Homo sapiens: one gene and its partners. The protein of the gene in region 1 purifies or fractionates together with the protein of each later gene. This does not show direct contact. Each region holds a gene or a part of one and is shown in the gene's direction. Other genes may lie near its edges.

Evidence for each region.
Region 2: the proteins of ODF2L (region 1) and HACL1 purify together in Homo sapiens (affinity purification with mass spectrometry; 2 studies listed by BioGRID and IntAct, with this or other methods). This does not show direct contact.
Region 3: the proteins of ODF2L (region 1) and NPM2 purify together in Homo sapiens (affinity purification with mass spectrometry; 2 studies listed by BioGRID and IntAct, with this or other methods). This does not show direct contact.

Annotation. Positions count from the first base shown.
Region 1 is NC_000001.11:86,392,663-86,400,784, reverse strand, and holds the start of ODF2L (protein BCAP), read left to right. Parts: upstream 1-4,461; 5' UTR 4,462-4,752; exon of another isoform or gene 4,753-4,840; intron 4,841-8,122. UniProt on the Homo sapiens protein: Acts as a suppressor of ciliogenesis, specifically, the initiation of ciliogenesis.
Region 2 is NC_000003.12:15,597,855-15,606,201, reverse strand, and holds the start of HACL1 (2-hydroxyacyl-CoA lyase 1), read left to right. Parts: upstream 1-4,632; 5' UTR 4,633-4,738; coding exon 4,739-4,819; exon of another isoform or gene 4,820-4,841; intron 4,842-5,007; coding exon 5,008-5,112; intron 5,113-8,347. UniProt on the Homo sapiens protein: Peroxisomal 2-OH acyl-CoA lyase involved in the cleavage (C1 removal) reaction in the fatty acid alpha-oxydation in a thiamine pyrophosphate (TPP)-dependent manner.
Region 3 is NC_000008.11:22,026,476-22,034,505, forward strand, and holds part of NPM2 (nucleoplasmin-2), read left to right. Parts: intron 1-5,874; exon of another isoform or gene 5,875-5,977; intron 5,978-6,654; coding exon 6,655-6,748; intron 6,749-7,633; coding exon 7,634-7,800; intron 7,801-8,030. UniProt on the Homo sapiens protein: Core histones chaperone involved in chromatin reprogramming, specially during fertilization and early embryonic development. Probably involved in sperm DNA decondensation during fertilization.

The DNA of each region.
Region 1 (8,122 bases):
CTACTCAGCCAAAAAAAAAAAAAAAAAAAAAAACTACTAAACTATGCAACAACATGGATGAATCTCAATCTCAAAAAAAAAGAACAAACTACTAAAATATGCAACAACATGGATGAATCTCAATCTCTCTCTCTCGCTATATATATATATATATATTCATTCAAATATGTGGGTGTGTATATATATGTATATACACATATATACATATATACACACACACATGCCTATTTGAATGAAAGAAGTCAGACAAAAAGGAATATATATTGTGTGATTCCATTTATATGAACACCAAGAATAGGCAATATTAACCTCTAGTCATATAAATTAGAAAGTAGTAGTCTCTCTGTGTGTGGGCTAGGGGAGGATGGAGAGGCATGAGGGTAGTTTTGGTGAACTGACAAGCTACAGACAGATACAAATAAACACTTTGGACTGACATAAATGTTCTAAATTTTGTTTTAGGTATTATTTTCATGAGTGCATATAATTATATAATTGGCAAAAGTCATACTCTGAACATTTAATACATATGTACTTTATTGAATATAAATTATACAACCATTTAAAAGTGGCCTATAATCCTCAGGAATTAAGTAGTCACTGAAGGCATACCTTTGTTGGGAATGGCAGGAATGAAGAATACAAAGATTGTGGGGTGATTTTTCTATTTATGACTGTACTAGGATGCTTAAAGAAAAATGTGATAAGCTCAGAGGCCCAGAGAACTTCTATGATTACCTTAAAACTTTATTAATTGCTGGGATGACACATCCAAATCAAGTATTAATGCTGTGAAGAGCTAAATTACAAGGTAAGTTGAATAAACAGACTCCTCAGGTCTCTTATGTAAGAAATTAAGGCATTGATTGGGAAGGAGTTGGATCTTTAGAGTTGTGATAGAGAGGTTGGGTGAATTCGGATAGCTCTATTATCTTAATACGCAGACACTACAGAGCTTTTTGCTTTCTGAAGAACTCCTCCCTTCCTATCTATAGGGCTGGTCTTGTACTCCTTGAAAATTCTGAAGTAACTTAATCTGAGGAATTTACCTTGTGAATCAATTGAGAAGAACTGATTGTTCTCAGAACTCAACTGTTATCAGTTCTTTATACCTCTAGACTACATCACCTAGTAGAAATATAATGTGAGCCACATACGTAATTTAAAATCTTCTACTAGCTACTCTTAAAATAGTGAAAAAGAAATAGTTGTGGTTAAATTTTGGTAATATATTTTATTTAACTCAACATAAACAAAATATCATTTCTGGTGGCATTGGTGGTATAGTGGTGAGTATAGCTGCCTTCCAAAATATCATTTCGACATAATCAGTATGAAAATCAAGATATTTTATGTTCTTTTTCATATGCAAAATGTGTGTATTTTGCATTTACAACATGTCTCAATTCAGAATCATCACATTTCAAATGTTTGAAATAGCTATAGGTGGCTGGTGGCCTTTGTATTCTCCATATTGGACCGGGGTTTCTTAATGTCAGCACTGTTGACATTTTGTTGTGGAGGATGTCCCGTGCATTGCAGATGTTTAACAGCATCTCTAGCCTCTACTCACTAGATGCCAGTAGGACACTTGCCCTTCCTCTTTGGCTGTGGCAAAAAAAATGTCAAGAACCACTGGTCTAGATCTAAAGTTAGATCCCAACATGTTCCAGGGTATAATAAAAGATCTGACCTGGGAGAAGGGTTTCATACCAAAAAAGTGCAAGATTTTGCTTATTTATATTGGCAGAAGACTATAGAAAATGATAATGAATTCCAAGTGTGGCAGACCAGGGATGAAGGAATATTTTTGATGAGACCAAGATATTAATATGAATACATTTACCAGAGACCATAATTCACTGTTCTTGCTTTGAACATCTAGGAGTGGCTGTCAAGGTTTGCTCAGTTGGTTGATTGAAACTAAATAAAGTTGAGATGTTAGAAATCTCTTGATTTTAGAGGATTGAATTAAAAGACTTAGGGAAAGGGGTAACGAAGAGAGGTTGATTAATGAGTGCAGACATACAGTTAGATAGAAGAAATAAGACCCAGTGTTTGACAGATAAGTAGGGTGACTATAGTTAACTATAATCTATTGTATATTTCAAAATAACTAGAAGAGAACAATTTGAATGTTCATAGCATAAAGATAAATATTTAAGGTGATGGATATCCTGACTATCTTGATTTGATCTTTACACATTACACATTCATATAAATGTATCCAATTATCACATGTACCCTGAAAATATGTACATCTAGTATGTATCAATTTTTAAAGAAGACTTAGGGAATAGTACTGTATGAATGGATTTATCATATGTTACCCAGTCATCTCCTTTCAAAGGTGTTCTGAGAGGGCCAAAGGACCTTCTTTTTACTAAAGCATTGAGAAAATATAGGGAATGCCAGAATCCTTTAAAAGCTCTGTAGCTGCTATTCTATAAGCCTGGGGATAAAGATGCTGCCATTGCATGAAATCCCTAATTCCCTAATGGAAATAGTAAGATCCCAAAGTGATAGAGGCCAAGTGATACCACTGAGCCATCAGAGATGAGATATCTGTTGATACCATGATACCAGCAGGGTGTATCATATTGTTTGACTAAGGGGGATCTTTAGGAGTTGATAATTAATCACTGCCCCTATAATTGAAATGGATAGTCTGCTAAGATTCTACTTAATTTGTACAGCAAAAAATTTACCAGAACTAATGAAGAGACCTGAATGTCATAACCTTAAAGGAGATTTACAGCATCTTGACATTGGCTTTTTGACTCATGGCTATTATAATAGGAAGACAAAGTGGAAGCCTTTGGAACTGCCCTTATCTACTAAAAGATTAAACCAAAGGCAATACCATAGTCCTAGGGGAATTCCAGTGATTAGTGGCACTATTAAAGAGTGCAAAGATGTAAAGGTGGTGATTCTCCATCACACTTTCATTTAACCTTCTGTTTGTCCTCTGCAAACAGGTTATCTAAAATGTTGCTTTTTAATTTTGAAGTATTATTTGTATTCAAGTATCTTTATTCTATTTCATTGCCTGCTATTTTTACATTCTAGTCCCCATTTGTTGCCATGAAGATAGAAATCACAATTTCTACCCAACACTGTAGTGTTGCATCCTGCACACAAACGTACTTTAGTGAGCTCATATGTTTATGTTTATGTATCATCTATGGCTTTTCTTGGTAAGACAATGGCAGAGTTAAATAGTATCACAGAGACCATATGACCTGCAAAACCTATTAATAAAATATTATCTGGCTGTATGAGCACATTTTCATACTGCTATAAAGAATTGCCTGAGACTGGGTAATTTATAAAGGAAAGGGGTTTAATTGACTCACAGTTCAGCGTCGCTGGGGAGGCCTCAGGAAACTTACAATCATGACGGAAGGTGAAGGGGAAGCAGGACACCTTCTTCGTTAAGGAGAAGTGCCCAGTGGAGGGGAAAGAGCCCCTTACAAAACCATCAGATAGCTTGAGAACTCACTAGCATGGGGGTAAACGGCCCCCATGATTCCATTACCTTCATCTGGTCTCTCTCTTGACACGTGGGGATTATGGAACTGCCCCCATGATTCAATTACCTTCACCTGGTTTCTCTCTTGACACGTGGGGATTATGGGGATTACAATTCAAGATGGGATGTGGTCGGGGACTCAGAGCCTAACCATATCACTGGCCCTTTACTAAAAAATTTACTAATTCTGTCTCCCGCTTTAAATTATGAAAGGGACAATTACAGTACTGGTGGAAAAACATTGCTGGAGTGCTTTAGTGAAACCAATTATTTAGGTAGCAGCATGCCACGGTTATGGCTTAGTTGACAGTTACTCTACTTGTGAACTTCATAGGTTGGTGTACGATTCTTAACATGAATATTAAGTAGAGGCATTGAATGAAGATATTTTTCCAATTAAAATCTTGCTTTGCTTCTTCAGGACTTTATAAACCAGACCAGCTGGCTGTGGCACAGATACGAAAGACTTTGAGACCCTGAAGGCACCTTGCAGAACATCCTCAGGCTTCCTCATTTAACAGGAAAAAACCTGAGGCCCAGGGAGGCATCTCAGCTAAAAATACTACTATACATTTAAAAGGAGGTTTCTTCCGGTCGCAGTTGCCTTCACGTTTTCAAATCTTCTCTTTAAAAAGCAAAAGCAGGGCACAACCAGGCCAAGCGCCAGAAAACTCGGAATTGGCTTTATTTCCTTTTTTTCTAGTTGGGCTCGGTTATGATTTTCGGTAACGTACACAAATGCTGTCCTTGTCCATAAACAAACGCTTAAAAAAAAATGTTTACCCGAGAAACAAGGATAGACACGAAGCTGCCCTCCCTGCCCCGTTCCTCACCCTCTCCAATAGCTATAGGCGCTGCCCGCCGTCCCTAACCCGGACCAATCGGCAGCCTGCTGCGGGCCTGACGGGAGGGGTGGGGCCGCCGTTGCCAGAGAAGCCACTAGCCGGTTACTAGCTGCGCTTTTGTTCCACTTGAGCGGGCACTCTTCTGCGGCAAGCAGGTCTAGGAATTCGCCTGGTTCCCACCTCGCGTCCCTTGCCTTCCTTCCTAGTCTACCCACTGTAGTGCCCCCTGCGTCCCGCTCCCTCCTAGCCGACTCAGAGCACAAGAAGGATTGCCACGGTTTCCATTGCAGCAGCCGTGGCGCCTCTGACCCTTTTTTTATATCGCGGCGACGGCGGGCTGTCGTCACGACGACGTGCGGACGCAGCGGCGGGGGCGTAAGTACGCCTTTTGGGTTGGGGGCGACTTTGTGGGGAGCCTAGCTGCTGCTGGGCGTTTACCGCGGGAGCCCTTAGCGGTCTGGAGGTGAGGGCAGTGGTGGGTCCCGGAAGTAAAAGGCCCTCGCGCCCACCCAGCCCCCTCCGCGCAAACCCTCCACCTCCCTCAGGCTGACTACCTGGCCTGGGAAAAGGGCGGCGAGACTCACTCTTAGGAAGGGTGTGGTCCCCGGGACATCAGGGCAAATGTTAGCGTGAGGTGGGCTTGTGCAGAACGAAGTCCTGACCGGGCCGTTCCTGGATATGGTTGCATTTCTTTCAGAAATAGTGACCTCTTAATCATTGGGCTGGTTTTTAATCGCCCATCATGTGATATATCAGATTGTAGGAAGCCCTGGGGGCTTCGTAAGTGAGGTATATTACAGGAATCCTCAGGAAATAATTCCTTCTCCAGGATTCCTCTAGGTTCCAGCCCCTATAGGCGACCCCTGTAGTGCGGGATTGACCTAGGGTCGTGGAGAGTGCTAAAGGCCGACTTGTGTTCAGTCCCAGCTCTGCCACTGAACCCGCTGTGTGGCCTTGTCTAGGTCACTGAACCTTCCTGGATTCCTTACTGATAACTGTAACAGTAATCATCACTTTGGGGTGGTTGTAATACGAGATTAAGTAAACGCAGGGCCATTAAGGTGGCACCGAATGTAGGTGGTTAGTGAGTGGTGGTGCTTGTTGTTTACTGAGAATAACCATACTGGGGCTGCTGTTGGGGATAAAATCTATTTCGAAGACAGTTTCCTCATCACGCAACGCATAGTACGGTTTCAAGTGTTTTTGAATGAATGAGGTTCTTGGAGTTTTAAGTGCAACTGAGTTAAGGTTAAAGAAACAAACCGGGCCGGGCGCGGTGGCTCACGCCTGTAATCCCAGCACTTTGGGAGGCCGAGGCGGGCGGATCACGAGGTTAGGAGATCGAGACCATCCTGGCCAACACGGTGAAACCCCGTCTCTACTAAAACAAATACAAAAAGTTATCCGGGCGTGGTGGCGGGCGCCCGTAGTCCCAGCTACTCGGGAGGCTGAGGCAGGAGAATGGCGTGAACCCAGGAGGCGGAGCTTGCCGTGAGCCGAGATCGCGCCACTGCACTCCAGCCTGGGCGACAGCGCGAGACTCTGTCTCAAAAAAAAAAAAAAAAAAGGAAAAAGAAACAAACTGCAGAAAACCTGTCTGCTTTTGAAATTAGTTTGATATTCTGCTTATAGTAAGAATGTCATGATCATGTTTATGATTTGCTTTTTGCTTCTCTTTTTCATCTTCTTATTTCACAATGGATGTGTATTTATAGTGTAGTTTTTCTATCCCAAAAGTTCCTTGTGACAAACTTTAGAACAATGGAATTTAGTGATCTGGTCGCGGTCTGCTCTCTCTCTTTAGAATTGTAGTCTGTGCTTTTAGCTAGCTCATTCATCACTCATTTCCTTGTCCAGAACAGTTTTCATCTTTTGAATCTAAATTGAACTTATGAGTATTAAAACCTGACTGAATAAAGGCAAGTTTGTGTGTTACTTTTTGCTTTGTAGATTTTTATATTTATGTTTTAGTATCTCATGGCTTTTTTTTTTTTTTGAGATGGAGTCTCGCTCTGCCGCAGTGGAGTGCAGTGGCGCGATCTCGGCTCACTGCAACGTCCGCCTCCCGGGTTCAAGTGATTCTCCTGCCTCAGCCTCTCGAGTAGCTGGGACTACAGGTGCCCACCACCACGCCTAGCTAATTTTTGTATTTTTAGTAGAGATGCGGTTTCACCATCTCATGGCTTTTAATTCAAAACTGAGTTCCACCAATTCCTTACTTGTAATCTTGGACAAGCTATTTAACCCTTCTAAGATTTAATTTACTTATTTATAGCTTTTTAATAACAACCTTGTGAAGCTTTTGTGAGATGATGTTTATAAGGTCAGTCAGTGCTCTGCTCAGTAAATGGCAACAGCTGTCGTGTTGAAGGAAAGGAATATGCTTTATGTTTGTCTGGTACAGGATGGTGACTTTATTTGGGATTAGACAATATTCTGAACATCTTTGGCCAGGTCTTTTTCCGGGTAATTGGGCTCTATATGGACACTCAAAAGTGTCCGAGTTTAAACAGTAAATAATTTAGTCACCCTAACTTATATTTGAGAACCTAATCTATGCTCCCCACTGTGTTAGGTAATTTTTTAGGGCAGAGAGTGATGCGTATTATTTGTCCTCACAGTTAATAGCAAGTTTAAAAGAGAACTAAAATATGAGCATTTATGGAGCAGTTAAATTCTAAACTATATGATTCTGAAAATACTTTTGTTTAGAGTTCTTGATGGGCTGGAGAAATCAGGGCAACACTTTGAGAAGGAAATGGAATGTTGGCTTTGAAGTACATGCCGTGTTTACAGAACAGTCACTCTTGCTGTCAACTCTTCTTCCTATATTATCCAGTCTGCAGCCCATCTTTTAAATATACATCCTTCTTTTTTCATTGGAGAGAGGGATTACTAATTTGTTATCTAATCTAATCTCTCTGTATCAGAAAACGTTTTTTCCATTTTGGTAGCTTTTACGCATAAGATTTATTTTCCAGCTTTTTGCCTGTTTCCAAGATTCCTATCCTTTTTTTTTTTTTCATACAATTACCTCTCTAGTAAACGTTTGACTAGTGTCCAGAATAGTAGGGGGAAAAAAAGAGGATTCCTGTATCTACTTTGTGTTCCTTGCTGAATATGCCATGGTGACTTTTTTCAGTAGAAGCTGTGTTTGAAGCCAGTGGAAGTTAGTTTTCTAAGAATTTGTGTTTGGCAAAACAAAATGTGCAGGTTTCATATGCTATTCTCTTCAGAGATATTGTTTTAAAATACATATTCATCTGAAGTTAGTTAATTTACTTAGTCTGATCTAGGTGTTAAGGAAGGTCATGGACCATGATTTTCCTTTTTCTCTGACCATGGCTAGCATCATGGTCCCTGAGCAGTTATCCCCAAATGCTTGCTGTTGGCCACAGTGGAACATAGTTTAGTGAATGTAGCTGGATCAGCATAGCCTACAAGCACTCCTGGAAAAAGCTTTAAGTACATGTCCTCTTGGCAGTAGACTGGCAAAATTGTCTCTGTATAGGAAATTTAAATCTTTAAACATTTTAAAATATTTTAAAATTGCTCATCTTTAAGGATTTTTAAATGGTTTTTTAAAATTTTTTATTTCCATAGGTTTTTGGGGAACAGGTGGTATTTGGTTACATGAGTGAGTTCTTGAGTGGTGATTTGTGAGATTTTGGTGCACCCATCCCTGAGCAGTGTACACTGAATTCCAATTGGTAGTCTTTTATCACTCACCCCCTTCCCACCCTTT
Region 2 (8,347 bases), on another chromosome or scaffold:
GCAACAGGGGCAGAGACTGTCACAAAAGGTACTGATATAAATAATACATGATGGAAGGGGAAGTCTGTACTTCTTCAACAAGGACAGGAGGCATTGTGTCAAGGACTACTCAAAGTGCAAAGATGATTTCACATCTTTTTTTTTTTTTTTTTTTTTTTTGAGACAGGGTCTCGCTCTGTCACCCAGGCTAGAGTACAGTGGTGCAATCTTGGTTTACTGCAACATCTACCTCCCTGGCTCACACGATTCTCCCACCTCAGTCTCCCGAATAGCTGGGATTACAGGCATGTGCCACCACACCTGGATAATTTTTGTATTTTAGCAGAGATGGGGTTTCACCACATTGGCCAGGCTGGCCTCGAACTCCTGACCTCAGATGATCTGCCCACCTCGGCCTCCCAAAGTGCTGGGATTACAGGCATGAGCCATTGTGCCCAGCCCGTTTCACATCTTTCTGGAATGTCAATTTTACTTGACAGGTAAGCAGTTTAAAATGTCATTTTTATTTTGGGTGGTGATTTCATAGATATATATATATATAACTGTCAAAACTCATCTAACATTTAAAATCTGGACATTGAATTGTATCTTTATTATATCTCAATAAATGTCATTTTAAAATTAAAATATGGATACATTCTAGAGTATAATACAAAATCTGCATTTTCTTTTTAGATACACTCTGAGACTTGAAAGAAGTCACCCTCTGAGATGGGTCCCTGATATGGTTTGGTTATGTCCCCACTCAAATCTCATCTTGAATTATAGCTCCCATAATCCCTACATATCATGAGCGGTACCTGGTGGGAGGTAACTGAATCATTGGGGAGGGTTTTTCCCATGCTGTTCTTGTGATAGCAAATAAGTCTCAAGCTGTGATGGTTTTATAAATGGGAGTTTCCCTGCACACACTCTCTTGCCTGTCGCCATGTAAGACGTGCCTTTGCTCCTCCTTCATCTTCCACCATGATTGTGACGTCTCTCCAGCCATGTGGAACTGTGAATCTATTAAACCTCTTTTTCTTTATAAATTACCCAGTTTTGAGTATTTCTTCATAGCAGTATGAAAAGGGACTAACACAGAAAATTGGTAATGCAGAGAGTGGGGCACTACTGTAAAGACAGCCGAAACTGTGGAAATAACTTTGGAACTGGGTAACTGGCAGAAGTTGGAACAGTTTGGAGGGCTCAGAAGAAGATAGGAAAATGTGGGAAAGTCTGGAACTTCCTAGAGACTTGGAGGGCTCAGAAGACAGGAAAATGTGGGAAAGTTTGGAACCTCCTAGAGACTTATTGAATGGCTTTGACCAAAATGCTGATAGTGATATGGACAATAAAATTCAGGCTGAAGTGGTTTCTGATGGAGATGAGGAACTTATTCAGAGTTGGAGTAAAGGTCACTCTTGCTATGCAAAGAGACTAGTGGCATTTTGCCCCTGTCCTAGAGATCTGTGGAACTTTGAACTTGAGAGAGATGATTTAGGGTATCTGGCAGAAGAAATTTCTAAATGGCAAAGTGTTCCAGAGGAAGCAGAGCATACAAATTTGAAAAATCTGCAGACTGACGATGCAGTAGAAAATAAAAACCCATTTTCTAGGGAGAAATTCAAGCTGGCAGCAGAAATTTGCATAGGTAATAAGAAGCTAACTATTAATCACCAAGACAATGGGGAAAATGTCTCCAGGGCATGTCAGAGACCTTCACAACAGGCCCTCCCATCACAGGCCCAGAAACCTAGGAGGAAAAATGGTTTCATGGGTCAGGTCCAGGGTCCCCCTGCTGTTTGCAGCCTAGGGACTTGGTGTCCTGCATCCCAGCCATGCCAGCCATGGCTAAAAAGGGCCAATGTACAGCTCAGGCCTGGCTTCAGACAGTGCAAGCCTGAAGCCTTGGCAGCTTCCACATGGTGTTGAGCCTGCAGGTGCACAGAAGTCAAAAATTGAGGTTTGGGAACCTCTGCCTAGATTTCAGAGGATGTATGGAAATGCCTGGATGTCCAGGCAGAAGCTTGTTGCAGGGGTAGAGCCCTCATAGAGAACCTCTGCTAGGGCAGTGTGGAAGGGAAATGTGGGGTGGGAGCCCCCATACAGAGTCCCTCCTGGGGCACTGCTGGTGGAACTGTGAGAAGAGGGCCACCGTCCTCCAGACCCCAGAATGGTAGATCTACTGACCACTTGCACCATGTGCCTAGAAAAGCTGCACACACTCAATATTAGCCTGTGAAAGCAGCTGGGAGAGGGGGTTGTAGCCTGTAAAACCACAAGGGCAGAGCTGCCCAAGGCTGTGGGAGCCCACCTCTTGCATCAGCATGATCTGGCTGTGAGATACGAAGTCAAAATGATCCAAAGATCATTTTGGAGCTTTAATATTTGACTGCCCTGCCAGATTTTGAACTTGCATGGGGGCTTTAGCCCCTTTGTCTTGACCAATTTCTCCCATTTGGAACGGGTATATTTACCTCACTCCCGTGCACCCATTGTATCTAGGAAGTAACTATCTTGCTTTTATTTATTTATTTTTAAATTTAATTTTATTATTTTTTTTGAGACGGAGTCTCGATCTGTCCCCCAGGCTGGAGTGCAGTGGCCCAATCTCAGCTCACTGCAAGCTCTGCCTCCCGGGTTCACACCATTCTCCTGCCTCAGCCTCCTGAGTAGCTGGGATTACAGGCGCCTGCCACCATGCCCGCCTAATTTTTTGTATTTTTAGTAGAGATAGGGTTTCACCGTGTTGACCAGGATGGTCTCCATCTCTTGACCTCATGATCCGCCCGCCTCGGCCTCCCAAAGTGCTGGGATTACAGGTGTGAGCCACTGCGCCCAGCCACTAGCTTGCTTTTGATTTTACAGGCTCATAGGCGGAAGGGACTTGCCTTGTCTCAGATGAAACTCTGGACTGTGGACTTTCGAGTTAATGCTGAAATGAGTTAAGACTTTGGGGGACTGTTGGGAAGGCATGATTGGTTTTGAAATGTGAGGATATGATATTTGGGAGGGGCCAGGGGCAGAACAGTTTGGCTGTGTCCTCATCCAAATCTCATCTTGAATTATAGCTCCCATAATCCCCACATGTGGTGAGAGGGACCCAGTGGGAAGTAACTGAATCATGGGGAGGGGATTTTTCCCATGCTGTTCTAATGATAGTAAGTCTCATGAGATCTGATGGTTTTATAAAGGGCAGTTCCCCTGCACACGCTCTCTTGCCTGCCACCATGTAAGACATGCCTTTGCTCCTCCTTCACCTTCTGCCATGATTGTGAGGCCTCCGTAGCCATTTGGAACTGTGAGACCATTAAACCTCTTTTTCTTTATAAATTACCCAGTTTTGGGTATTTCTTTATAGCAGTATGAAAATGGACTAACACCGTCCACATATGCAGGGAGGCAACCACTTCACTCTCCTCTGCTTGGGGTGGGGTTGAGGGGTTGAGAAAAAGAGGGGAAGACCTTTTGAAAAGACCCAGGACTACAGTTTGAAAATGTCTGGGTTTAGAAATCGTTTCACTTCCAGTGCTTCTCACTCATTTCACTACCCATGACCCACTCCCCTCTCATCTCTTTACTGTCCACTTATCACTGTTCTTTTTGCTTAAAATGACTCCAAATCCTCAAAAAATTAAAAGTTCCACTGTTTATTACAATTGGAAATTTTATGTTTATTGTCACTGAGCAGAGGGTCTAATGACTCCAAGGCAGTAGTTTCAGATATTGCACATTGCAAACGATTTTCACACAAAAATGTTTTAAAAGGCTATCGGGTGCAGGGCTGGTTGTAGGTAGGGACCCAACCTAAGAATTATGAAACGCCATAGTTCCTAATTTTGGAAAGATATTAGCGGAGAGTAATATGGATTAGTAGCAAGGGCTGGAGAAAACAGTGCTCTATACTACCTTCAAGGTGCTCTTTTCATCGCTTGTGACCCAATGGCTGAATAGTGGGTAGGAAACAGGATTCAGGATCTCAGGCACGGTCTGGATCTACTGACTCTGAGCGTCATTTTATCTCTTGCTGGGGTACACATCTGCTTCTGGATTTAAGTAACGTGCGCTACAATAATTTAAGGACTATAAAACCACAAGGTTATGAGAGCGTAAACCACAAAGCGTGTAAGTAAATGCCTAGAAAACGCAACGCGGTAGCACAGCAGCAACGCACAAACAGCCCCAGCAAACGACGCGCGCCGGGCTTCCCAGCTCCCGGCAGCCTTTGCGCAGCCCTCCCCAAGTCCAACTGGGCGCCCGGGGCGGGGTCTGGACCGCACGCCCTTACCACACCCCCTCCGCGCCGCACCACGCCCCCTCCGTACCTGCTCTTAGCGCGCCTTCCGCCCTGAATATGCGCATGCGCCATTCTCCCTTTACAGCCCCGAAAACGCTCCAGCTGGCCGACTCGGAGACAATGGCGAGAGGCCTCAGAGTTCGGCTTCTTACCTGCTTTGCATAGGCAGCAATCTCCTGCTAGTCCCGCCTCCCTCTGGCATTCTGGCGCGCGAATGGAGGAGCCGAGAAGAGAGCGCAGTTCTGATTGGAGAACGCGCGTGTTTACATTCTCACCTCTCCCGGGAAGTGGACGAATTTAGACCGCCTCTTCCTTCCCGTTGTTTAAGGCAGTTGGTTGCCCTCCTGTCCGTCAGAGGTGCAGTACCAGAGGTGGCGTGCTGCCGATTTCGCGTTTGCCTTGCTGGATGATTCCGCTTGTTTGCCGGCTGCGTGAGTGCTTAGAGCTTTTCGGTGGAAGATGCCGGACAGTAACTTCGCAGAGCGCAGCGAGGAGCAGGTGTCTGGTGCTAAAGTCATCGCTCAGGCCCTGAAAACGCAAGTACGATGGACCTTCCTGGAATGAAAGGCTCCTACGGAAGCTGGCGGGGACCGCGATGTTGTCTTGGAGACGAGTAGAAATGGGCGATGGGGGTCGGGGGGTTTTCCTTTTAGCGCCCGGGAGGGAGGGAAGGATGTGGCGATATGGTGGGGCCTTGGGAGTTTACTCCCCTGTTCTTCGTTCCTCAGGATGTGGAGTACATATTTGGCATCGTAGGCATCCCAGTGACCGAAATCGCCATTGCTGCCCAGCAGCTAGGCATCAAGTACATCGGGATGAGGAATGAGCAAGCGGTGAGTATGGACTCAGGTGGCTGAATGCGTTACTGGGAATGATCAGTAATAGCGGTAGGTATGCATTGCAAACACCCAGATAGCGCTTACCACTCTTCTGCTACTTTACATATATCATATCAATCACTGTTGAATATTAACTGTTGTTACACCAAGTTGACAGATGAGAAAAGACACAGGTTAAGTAAAACTTGCCTTTGGTGACACAGCTGGTAGTAGCAGAGCCAGGGTTTGAACCCACGTATTCTGGGTCTGAGTCCATTCTCTTACTACTATACTGTATGTCATGATTGGAATGGACAGTTTATGAGTAAAGTCTGACTTCCCTATTAGGCTACAAGCTCCATTAGAGCAGGGATATTATTTCTTCACGACACATCTGTACCCCCAGTGCTTAGTGTGGTGCCTGCATAAGAAAGGTGTTCAGAGATTACCTGTGGGATAAATGAGTGAAGGCCAAGGCTTTGTTGTATGATTGGTTCGGGGCAGGGTGGAGGATATCACAAATGGTAGTGCCTTGATGGAAACTCAGATGGCTCAGATCCTAGCCTGATGCTTTTTCCACCACATCATGCTGCCACCTTTCTTAGAGGCTTATTTGGAAGCAGGATAAGGAAGATACGACGTTTTGTCAATCCACTTTAAGTGCATCCTCTGCCAATCCACCTTGCTCTTCTCTCAGTAGTGCGGGCTTGAAAGGTCAAGAATCCACTTCTGTGATATCACATACTCTCAGTCCAGCTGAGGCTAAATATTCCTGCTTTACACTCCCACCGTTGCCTTCTAATTTAAATTCTTGCCTCCTCTTGCCCAAACAACTGCCTGGCCACCCTAAGTGGTGCCTTTTGCCATCATACATGAGTGCCTGGAGGGCAGAAGTTGTGATTCATTTGTTATATCACCACAGTGCCTGGCTTGGTTTGTGCTTTCACGTGGTGTAGATGCTTAATATTATACATTATTTATTAATTGAATGACATTCTTTATTGAATGACATTCTTTATTGAATGACATTCTTTATCTACAAGGTTTGAGATTTGTATTTTTTAATCTTAAAACTAGGAGGTTTTGAGTTTCTGTTGCTTCTACATTTTACTTGTCTTTGTTAGAACAACATTCTGTTCTTTCATCTGTGTGAAAAAATGAAGCTATTGACCTATGAATGGAACCTATACTTAACTGTTTTTGTAGAGATGACATATCTGCCACTGATTTCTTCATACAGCAAACATTTATTGACTAAGTACTGTATACTAAGGATTGTGCTACATAACCTGTAGGAGAGAGGGATGTAAAGAAGGAGTGAGGTTTAGTCTTGATCTTCACGTTGATCAGTCCTGGAAGGTGAGGGTAAGACTTACAGAAAAAGACTCATCTATTATAACTCTCACAATAGATGTAGTAGCACAGAAGGGGTGACTGGTTCTCTTTGAGGACAGAGAAGATTGCCTGTAGAGGTAATGTTAGTTCATGTGGTTCCCTCAAGGTAGGTAAAGGCATGGTGAGCTGTGAGACTGGTAGGTAGGTTGAGGGGAGGTTGTGGGAAATCTAAAAAGAGTTTGAATTTTTTTTTTTTTTTAACAGTAGGCAATGGGGGAGACTAAAGGTTTTTCTAAACAGGTGGGCGATGTAATTAGATTTGTACTTCAGAAAGATGATGCGAGGCATGGTTGTACATGCCAGTAATCCCAGCTACGAAGGGGGCTGAGGCAGGAGGATTACTCAAGTCCAGGAATTAGAGGCTGCCTGGGCAACATAGCACGACCTCTGTCTCTAAGTTTTATTTCAGCCCCTATAAGCTTAGTTGAGGGTTCTTTAGGTCCCATGTGCTGTGTTGGGTGCTGGATACAGAGATGAATGATAGTTCCTGGCTTTAAGGGGCTTACAGCCAAGCTGTGGAGACAGACACAGACAATTGTATTATAAGGTGGTAAGTGCTGTGATAGAGAGATATCCAGGGTGCTATAAAGCCCAGAGAAGGAGTACCCAGGCTCAGCTTCCCACAGGAGATGATGTCTGAGCTGTCCTGAAGGATAAGCAGGCATTAACCAGTTAGGAAAGAGGAGGCAGGCTCCTCTGGAGATGATTCCTAGATTTTGGGCTTACTTGATTGATTGTGTAGATCATATTGTCTGTGACTGAGACTGGGAATATAGAGGGAAGAGCCAGCTTGGAGGAGAAAGGTGATGTTCAATTTTGAACACATGCATTTGAGATGTTGGTGGAACATCCCAGTGCATATGTCCCTCAAGCATCCTGACTCTATGGTAGTCAAAGGAAGACTTAAATGGTACCTGAACTAAGGGTAGTGACAGAATGATTCAGAGGGAACATGAAAACAGGCTAAGGCATTCAGGACATGTTTGTGATAAAGAGAAAGATGTAGTTGGGTGTGACTTCATTGTCTTTGATTAGATCCATAGAGTAATCAAGACATACTGACCAATTGGCCAGCAAGTAGGCAGATTGTCAGCAAGTTCATTGTTCTTGAGAGCTTACTGTGTGTGGGCACTATTTTGAGTGTTTTACACATACGAACTGATTTCATCCTCACAGCAGTGCTTTGAATTATTTTCATTTTATAGATGAAGAAACAGAGATTTAGAGCAACTTGCCAAAATTACACAGTAGAAAGTGGGGAAGCTGGGATTTAAATCAAAACAGATTGGCTCGAGAGTCCACTCTCTAAGTACCATGTACACTGTTCTGCCTGTGAATGGAGGTAGTTTAGTAGAGGAACAGATCTTTTATGGTCATAAAACCAGTTATGGCCAGGCGCGGTGGCTCACGCCTGTAATCCCAGCACTTTGGGAGGCTGAGGCAGGCAGATCACCTGAGGTCAGGAGTTTGAGACCAGCCTGACCAACATGGAGAAACCCCGTTTCTAAAAATATAAAATTAGCCAGGCGTGGTGGTGCATGTTTGTAATGCCAGCTGCTCGGGAAGCTGAGGCAGGAGAATTGCTTGAACCTGGGAGGTGGAGGTTGCCGTGAGCCAATATTGCATCATTGCACTCCAGCCTGGGCAACAAGAGCGAAACTCCGAAACTCTGTCTCAAAAAAAAAAAACAAAACAAAACAAAATAAAACAAAACAAAACAGTTACCTCTCAACTTTTGACATTTCCTACCAGAGGAATATACTTTTTGTTACGTGTTGTTGTATATTTTGCATTGCCTAGCAACATTTCTTACCTAGCTATCATAAGTGGGCAATTCTTTTGGGTGTCTAAATAA
Region 3 (8,030 bases), on another chromosome or scaffold:
ATGGAGTTTCACTCTGTCACCCAGGCTGGAGTGCAGTGGTGCAATCTCAGCTCACTGCAATTTCTGCCTCCCAGGTTCAAGCAATTCTAGTGCCTCAGCCTTCGGAGTAGCTGGGATTACAGGTGTGCACCACCATGCCTGGCTAATTTTTGTATTTTTAGTAGAGACAGGGTTTCACAATGTTGCCCAGGCTAGTCTCGAACTCCTGACCTCAGGTGATTCGCCCGCCTTGGCCTCCCGAAGTGCTGGGATTACAGGCGTGAGTCACCACGCCAGGTCTTTTTTCTTTCTTTCTTTCTTTTAATCCTACTGCACTGGCTAGGCCCTGCAGTGGAATATTGGGTGAACATGAGATCAGGTCTGACATCCTTATTTCCTTCTTGTTTTTTAAAAAAGAAGCATTTGGTAAGTACATTTTGTCAGGTTAAGGAAGTCCCCATCTAAAACCCTCTGCTTTTAAAAAATTGCTTTGCTTTGAAATCACTAGAGGGGGTTAAATTTTACCAAATGCTTTTCTATTCATATGATTCTAGGTTCTTTAGTCCACGTGGTAAATTATATGAAGATAATAATATCTGAGTTCCTTTGCCATCCTGGGATAAATACTACTGGTCATGTTACAAATTCTAGATTTGTTTTACTCATATATTGAGCCCTTTTTTTTACCTGTATACATGTGAGGTTGGCCTATAAGTGATAGTATTTAGGTGTTCAGGACATGCTAGCCTCATGCACTGAGGGTGGAGGGTTCTCTCCTATTCCCTGGAACAGTGAATGGAAGACTAGGATCAGCTGTCCTTGGAGGTTTGGGAGACCCCTCTGTCAAACTGCCCTCAGACTTTCCTGTTCTATTTACACATACTTTGCAGGCGATCTCATCCTTTCCTGTGGTTTTCAAGACCATCTAAACAAATGAAGACTCAGGAACTTATTTCTGTAAACTCAACCTCTCTTGAGCTCCAAGTCCTATATCCAACTAAATGGCTTTGATAGATATCTAATAAATATCCCAAATTTAACATGTCTAAATCCACATATTCAATTTTTATCTCTAATCCACCCGCCTCCCCTTCAACCTGATTTTCTCTCAGAAAACAGCTGTTTTTCCAGTTAGCCAAGACAAAGCTCTTTTTTTTTTTTTTTCCCCTGAGATGGAGTTTCACTCTTATCACCCAGGCTGGAGTGCAATGGTGCGCTCTCGGCTCACTGCAACCTCCGCATCCCATGTTCGAGTGATTCTCCCATCTCAGCCTCCCAAGTAGCTGGGATTACAGGCATGTTCCACTACGCCAGGCTAATTTTTGTAATTTTAGTAGAGATGGGTTTTTGCCATGTTGGTCAGGCTGGTCTCGAACTCCTGACCTCAGGTGATATACCCGCCTTGGCCTCCCAAAGTGCTGGATTTACAGGCATGAGCCACCACACCCAGCCAAATCCTCTTTTTTCCCACACCCATATCTGATCTACCAGCAGTCCTGTTGTCTCTGCCCCCATCTTATACCCCAATGGACCACATCTCATCATCTTCCCTGCTACCCCTGGTACAGGTGACAGTTGCCTGTGGCTCCATTTTAATTGCACAGCCTTCCACCTGGTCTACCTACCATCACATGGTCCCCTGTAGTCTATTCCAGGGTAGGCAAACTAGAGGGCTTGAATCTAGGCTGCTGCCTGGTTTTGTAAGTAGTTTTACTGGGAACACAGCCACACTCATTCGTTTGTACCCTGTCCATGGCTGCTTTTCCTCCCTAACAGCAGATTTGAGTAGTCTCCATGGAGACCATATGGTTTGCAAACCTAAAATATTACCTTCTGGCTCTTAACAGAAAGTTTCCTGGTCTGTGCTCCACACAGCTGCCAAAAAGATTTTTTTTTTTTTTTTTTTTTTTTTTTGAGACAGAATCTTGCTTTGATACCAGGGCTGGAATGCAGTGGCTTAATCTCGGCTCACTGCAACCTCCACCTCCTTAGTAGCCGGGACAACAGGCGCTCCCCACCATGCCCAGCTGATTTTTTTTTTTTTTTGTAATTTTTAGTAGAGACGGGGTTTCACCATGTTGGCCAGGCTGGTCTTGAACTTCTGACTTCAAGTGATCCACCTGCCTCAGCCTCCCAAAGTGCTGAGATTATAGGCGTGAGCCACTATGCCCAGCCAAAAAGATCCTTTTAAACACAGGTTAGATCATGTGGCTTCTCTGCTAGAATAGTTAGGTCATGGCTCTCTCTCATTTGGAATAAGAGCCGAGAGTGTATTATGGCCTGCTTCGAAGCCTTTGTGTTCTGGCCTCAGCAACCTCTCTGTTTCAGGTGTGTTTTATGTCTTATGTTCCAGGTATGTATCTTTTACACAGTATGTAGCTAGATTTTGTTCTATCTGGCCAGTATAGTCTGTATTCATTGTGATTGCTGATGTAATTGGATTTGTGGCATGTACTTTGTACCCCTACTTTCCTTGCTTTTTTATTTTCTTCTCCTTTTCCTATATTTTATTAGATTAATTAAAGTTCCTTTTCCCCTTCTCTACTGGTTTGGAAGTTATAGAATCTCATTCTAATTTTTTTACTGTTTATCTTTAATTTTTTTAACAATCATACATTACTCAAAGTTTAGAATTAATGTTTTATGTCCTCCCAGACAATCCAAGGAGCTTTTCTGATTCTCCTTTTTTTATTTTTTTATTTTCGAAATGGAGTCTCACTTTGTTTCCCAGGCTAGAGTGCAGTGGTGCAATCTTGACTCACTGCAACCTCTGCTTCCCAGGTGATTCAAGTGATTCTCCTGCCTCAGCCTCCCAAGTAGCTGGGATTACAGGTATGCACCATCATGCCCAGCTAATTTTTGTATTTTTAGTAGAGACAGGGATTCACCACGTTGGCCAGGCTGGTCTTGAACTCCTGAGCTCAGGTGATCCTCCTGCCTTGGCCTCCCAAAGTGCTGGAATTATAGGTGTGAGCTACCGCACCTGGCCTGATTCTCATCTTTTTAACTTCAATATTATTATCAAGTGTTCTAGCTCCAACTTGTCAGCCTACTCAACACTACTCATTACTAGTACTATTGTATTTTCCAGTTAATTCTTATGTAGGTTTACTTTGTTTACCAATTAGTTTGGTTACCACTGCTTCTAGCACCCACTTCTTCCTTCTTGATCTAATTTCTTATCCTTTTTAGCAACATACTTTAGTAAGCCTGAGAATAGTAAACTTATTCAGGCTTTGTCTGGAAATATCATGATTTTGCCCTCATTCCTTCATGATGGTTTGGCTGTGTATATAATTCTAGATAGAGAGTTTCCTTCAGCTTTGAAGCTGTTCTATTCTGGTTCCCAATGTTGCTGTTGAAGTCCTCAATCTGTCTGATTATTCCCTTTTTGGAGATGTCTTTCCTCTCTGGCTTATTTTAAGATAATGTCTTTTGTTTTTATTTTCTATAGTTTTACCATGATGTGTTCAGGTGTAGATTTATTTTTTTTGTCTGTTCAGGACTTAGGTTTTCAGACATGAGGATCTATGTCTTTGATCAATTCTGGAAAATTATTGGTTGTTTTTCCTTTGAATATTGACTGTCTTCCAGTCTCCCTAGTCCCTTTTCCAATTAGATATATGTTGGGCCTTCTCACTCTGTCCCCCGTGTTAGCTCCCCCAATGTTTCTTTAAATCTCTCCCTCTCTGCCTTATACTGGGTAATTCCTTCACAGCATTATTGATCATACTAATTCTGCTTCTGCTGGTTTTTTCTGCTTTTTAATCATTTGATCAGGTTTTCTTTTATTTTTGTTTTAAAGACAAGGTCTTGCTCTGTTGCCTAGGTTGGAGTGCAGTGGCCTGATCATGGCTCACTGCAGCCTCAAACTCCTGGGCTCAAGTGATCCTCCCACTCAGCCTCCTAAGTAGCTGGGACTACAGGCATGAGCCACCATGCCCAGCTAATGTTTATTATTTTTTTGTAGAGCTGGAGTCTCACTATGTTATCCAGGCTGGTTTCTAATTTCTGACTTCAAGCACTCCTCCCACCTCAGCCTCTCAAAGTGCTGGGATTATAGGTGTGAGCCACCATGCCCATCCTCAGCTTTGGGTGTTTTATATCTAGAAAGCTGCATTTGGTTCTTTTTCTTTTCATAATGTCTTGTTCTTATGATTATGATTCCTACTTTTATATTTACTTGGTTTTAAACATATACATATATATATATATGTACATATTTCTGTATATACATATTTTAGAGACAAGATCTTGCTCTGTCGCCCAGTCTGGAGTGCATTGTTGCAATCATAGCTCACTGCAGCCTTGAACTCCTGAGTTCAAGCGATCTTCCGGCCTCAGCCCCCCCGAGTAGCCTGGGCTACAGGCGTGCACCAACACACCCAGCTTTATCTGATATTTTTTTAGATCAGTGTTCTAAGTTCTTGGTCGGGCTAGTCTGCAGTCACTTGATTTCTTTCTGTTGACTCTAGCTGGATTGTTTCTTGTATGTTTTGTAATTTTATACGGTGAGCTCATCTTTAGTTTATTTTGTTTTTTTCCAAAAGAATTCGATGTGGCCTGAGTTTGGGGAGTGTTCCAACAGAGTGGTTTCGTGTTTGCTTCTGCCATTTACCTCAGGAATATCATAAGCTTGGGATTTTCTGTACATTTCTTGGCTTGGCAGTACTCACTGAGTAAATTCAGACCCCATAAGTGAGAGGTACAGCTATGGGGTATGGGCTCTCACTGGAGACTTCTTTTATTTCCATTCATGCTTTGTTGTTAGCTTCCTTTAATGGTGGCTAGGGTTTTGATTTTTGTTTTTCATTTTTGAGGAGAAGAGGGCTGGTTTGGGCTTTTGAGTCTCTAATCCTCAACACTTACCTTGGGCCTCTCACTAAGGGTATAGCCCTTGAGGGTCCTACCCTCCCCATGGTGGTCTCAGCTACAACTCTCCTCCTTGCCTGAGCCCAAGGCCTTGTCTCCTGACTGTGAAGATTTTGTTGTTGTTCTGTTGTGTTTTTTAAAGACAGTCTTGTTCTGTCGCCCAGGCTGGCACGCAGTGGCGCAATCTCGGCTCACTGCAGCCTCCGCTTCCTGGGTTCAAGCAGTTCTCCTGCCTCAGCCCCCTGAGTAGCTGGGATTACAGGTGTGCACCATCACACCTGGCTAATTTTTGTATTTTTAGTAGAAACAGGGTTTCACCATGTTGCCCAGGCTGGTCTCAAACTCCTGACCTCAAGTTATCCGCCTGCCTTGGCCTCCCAAAGTGCTTGGATTACAGGCATGAGCCACCGTGCGTGCTCGGCCTGTGTGTGAGTTTTGAAGCAAAAAGTCCTGGCTGTTTTCAGGTCCATTTCCCCTCGGTTGCAGCACACCAGCTCCTGCACCTGCCTGTCTTCATTTCTTTTTTCTTTTTTTCATTCATCACTAATCAGAAGGCATCCTCTCTTCATTTTTTATGTACGAGGATTCTTCTGTCTTACTGTTCAGCCATGCAGTAGAAACACTGAATTACATCCTCTCTGGCATTTCTAAGTGTCTCTGGCTGCAGAGTTTGTTTTCACTTATTACCTCCTGTTTGAACTTAGAGTTTAGAAGCTGTAAGTTATTCACTCTAAGTCTCAGTTTCCTCCTCTGTAAAGTATCAGTACTTACATCATGGGTTTCTTGTGAGGATTTAATGAGATAAAGCAGATAAAATGCTTAGCAGGGTGCCTGACACGTGGCAGAAGCTCAAAACAATAAGCTATCATTGTCATTCGAGAAAATTTGGGAAGTTTGGAAAAGTATAAATACAATAAATACCTTACTATCGACTGACAATTATGGTTAGCACTTTAATATATTTTAAACCTTTATTCTTATGTATATCCATACATTATACATAAGACAAAAGTAGTACTGTAGAGGCTCTTGTCATTTATAAGTGTGATGATTGGGGTTTCACGCTCGTGTGTAAGGTGTGCCTCCCACAAACCTGGTTACGAGTTGGCACATCACCTGTCTGATGTGAAGAAAGCAAGCAGCACTGTACATAAAATCATGCATCTGCTTTCTCGTTTGATCGGTGTCTCAGTCTGCCCAAGTTGCTATAACAAAATACCACAGACTGGAGGGCTTTAGCAACAGACGTTTTCTCACACTTCTGGAGGCTTTGAGGTCTGAGATCAGGGGGCCGGCATGGTTGGGTTCTGGTAAGGGTCCTCTCCCTGAGTTGCAGACGGCAGCCTTCTTGCTATGTGTTCACGTGTGGGGCAGGAGAGTGGAGAGAAAGAGAGTGAGTTCTCTAGTGTCTCTTTTTGTAAAGGTACTAGTTCTATCATGAGGGTCCTGCCCTCATGACCCCAAACCTAATGACCTCCCAAGGCCTGCATTTCTAAATACTATCACACTGGAGGATAGGGCTTCAACATAGGAATTTGGAGGATGGGGGGAATGGCCATAATTTAGCCCATACTAATCAGATTCCTCTATCTGACGGCTGCCCTTCAGCTTGGAAGCCCATCTGTGAGCTTAGCAAGAATGGGATTACCAGGTTCAAATTCTTGGACAGAATCCACCTCAGCAGGGGCTGAGTAGTGTGTAGGGTTTGGGGAGGGAAATCAACTCAGTATTTCTGCCTGAGGCTAGTCCCCGAGAGGTGCCAGGCCTAAGTGGCCCTGTCTTCTCTGCTTCCTCCCCCTGCAGGTCTCCATGGTAGGAGTGCAGCTTTCTCCCCCAGTTACTTTCCAGCTCCGGGCTGGCTCAGGACCCGTGTTCCTCAGTGGCCAGGAACGTTATGGTAAGTCAGAGCCTGCGATCAGGAAGGTCCGTGAGTACCGTGCTAGGCAGGGGCTCGGGACATACTAGCTACTCAAACACTGGAGGGATTCTTGAATGTTGGAAGAAAATCCCCAAAGGCAACATGACAGCCAGCAGCCTGGACTGGAAGGCAAGGGCGCTGGTCCCTGTTCTTCTTCTTTACCTGCCATGACCTCTGTAGGCTGCAGCCCCTCACTTGTAAACTTCAAAGAGCAGTTGTGAAGAATAAATGGGATATTCAGGAAAAGCACTCAGCGTAATACCCAGCACTAGGGAACCACTGTTCAGGATGTGGCTGCTGCAGTGATGCAGACCATAGCAACGCAGACCATAGCAACGCAGACCATAGCAACGCGGCATGATGCTGACTCCTTCAAGGTCCCTTCAACTGGCCCTCTTTTCTGTATGATTATGCCTCATTCATCAGGGTACTCTCCTGCTAAAAAGCCTTGGCAGGTCCCACTTCTCTTAGGATAAGGTTTCAATTCTTTAGCTATTTGTTTTAGATTCTTTCCCCCTCTCCTCCTCTTCCTCCCCTACTCTGCCTACCTTTAGCCTTGGCCCCAGCCCTTGCCAATATGAATCCCCCTCCTACCCAGCCAGAGCCACTTCCCCTGCCCTCTTTCTACCACCCCAGCCCTCTGCAGGGCTTTCCTAGACCCCCTACCCTACCCTGGCCTCCACTGTTGGGAGGGCCAGAAAGGGTGCCGCCCTGTACAGGTGGCAGGCAGGTAACCACTGTCAACTCCAGGCTAGGATTCCTCCAGGGCAGTGCTTGGAGCAACACGGATCACAGAATGGGAGGTGGGCATTGATTCTGTAGCTCTGAAGCTGTGCCCCTGCATCCTTTCCCATGCTATTACAGAAGCATCAGACCTAACCTGGGAGGAGGAGGAGGAAGAAGAAGGGGAGGAGGAGGAAGAGGAAGAGGAAGATGATGAGGATGAGGATGCAGATATATCTCTGGAGGAGCAAAGCCCTGTCAAACAAGTCAAAAGGCTGGTGCCCCAGAAGCAGGCGAGCGTGGCTAAGGTGGGGGAAGGAGCGTGGCTGTTTGGAAGGAAGTGGTACCCCTACAGAAGCACTTAAGAGGGGTGGGCCACCGGGAGCCTGGGCCAGCCTCCCAGAATGAGTGTACAGGATGGGCCAAGGCCACCTCAGCTAGTTCTGGCCAGGAGCTCAGCGGGGACCTTGTGGACTTTGGGAATCTGTTCTGGCTCTGGACTTTGTCTGAACTCTCATAATACACTGTTTTTTGGTTC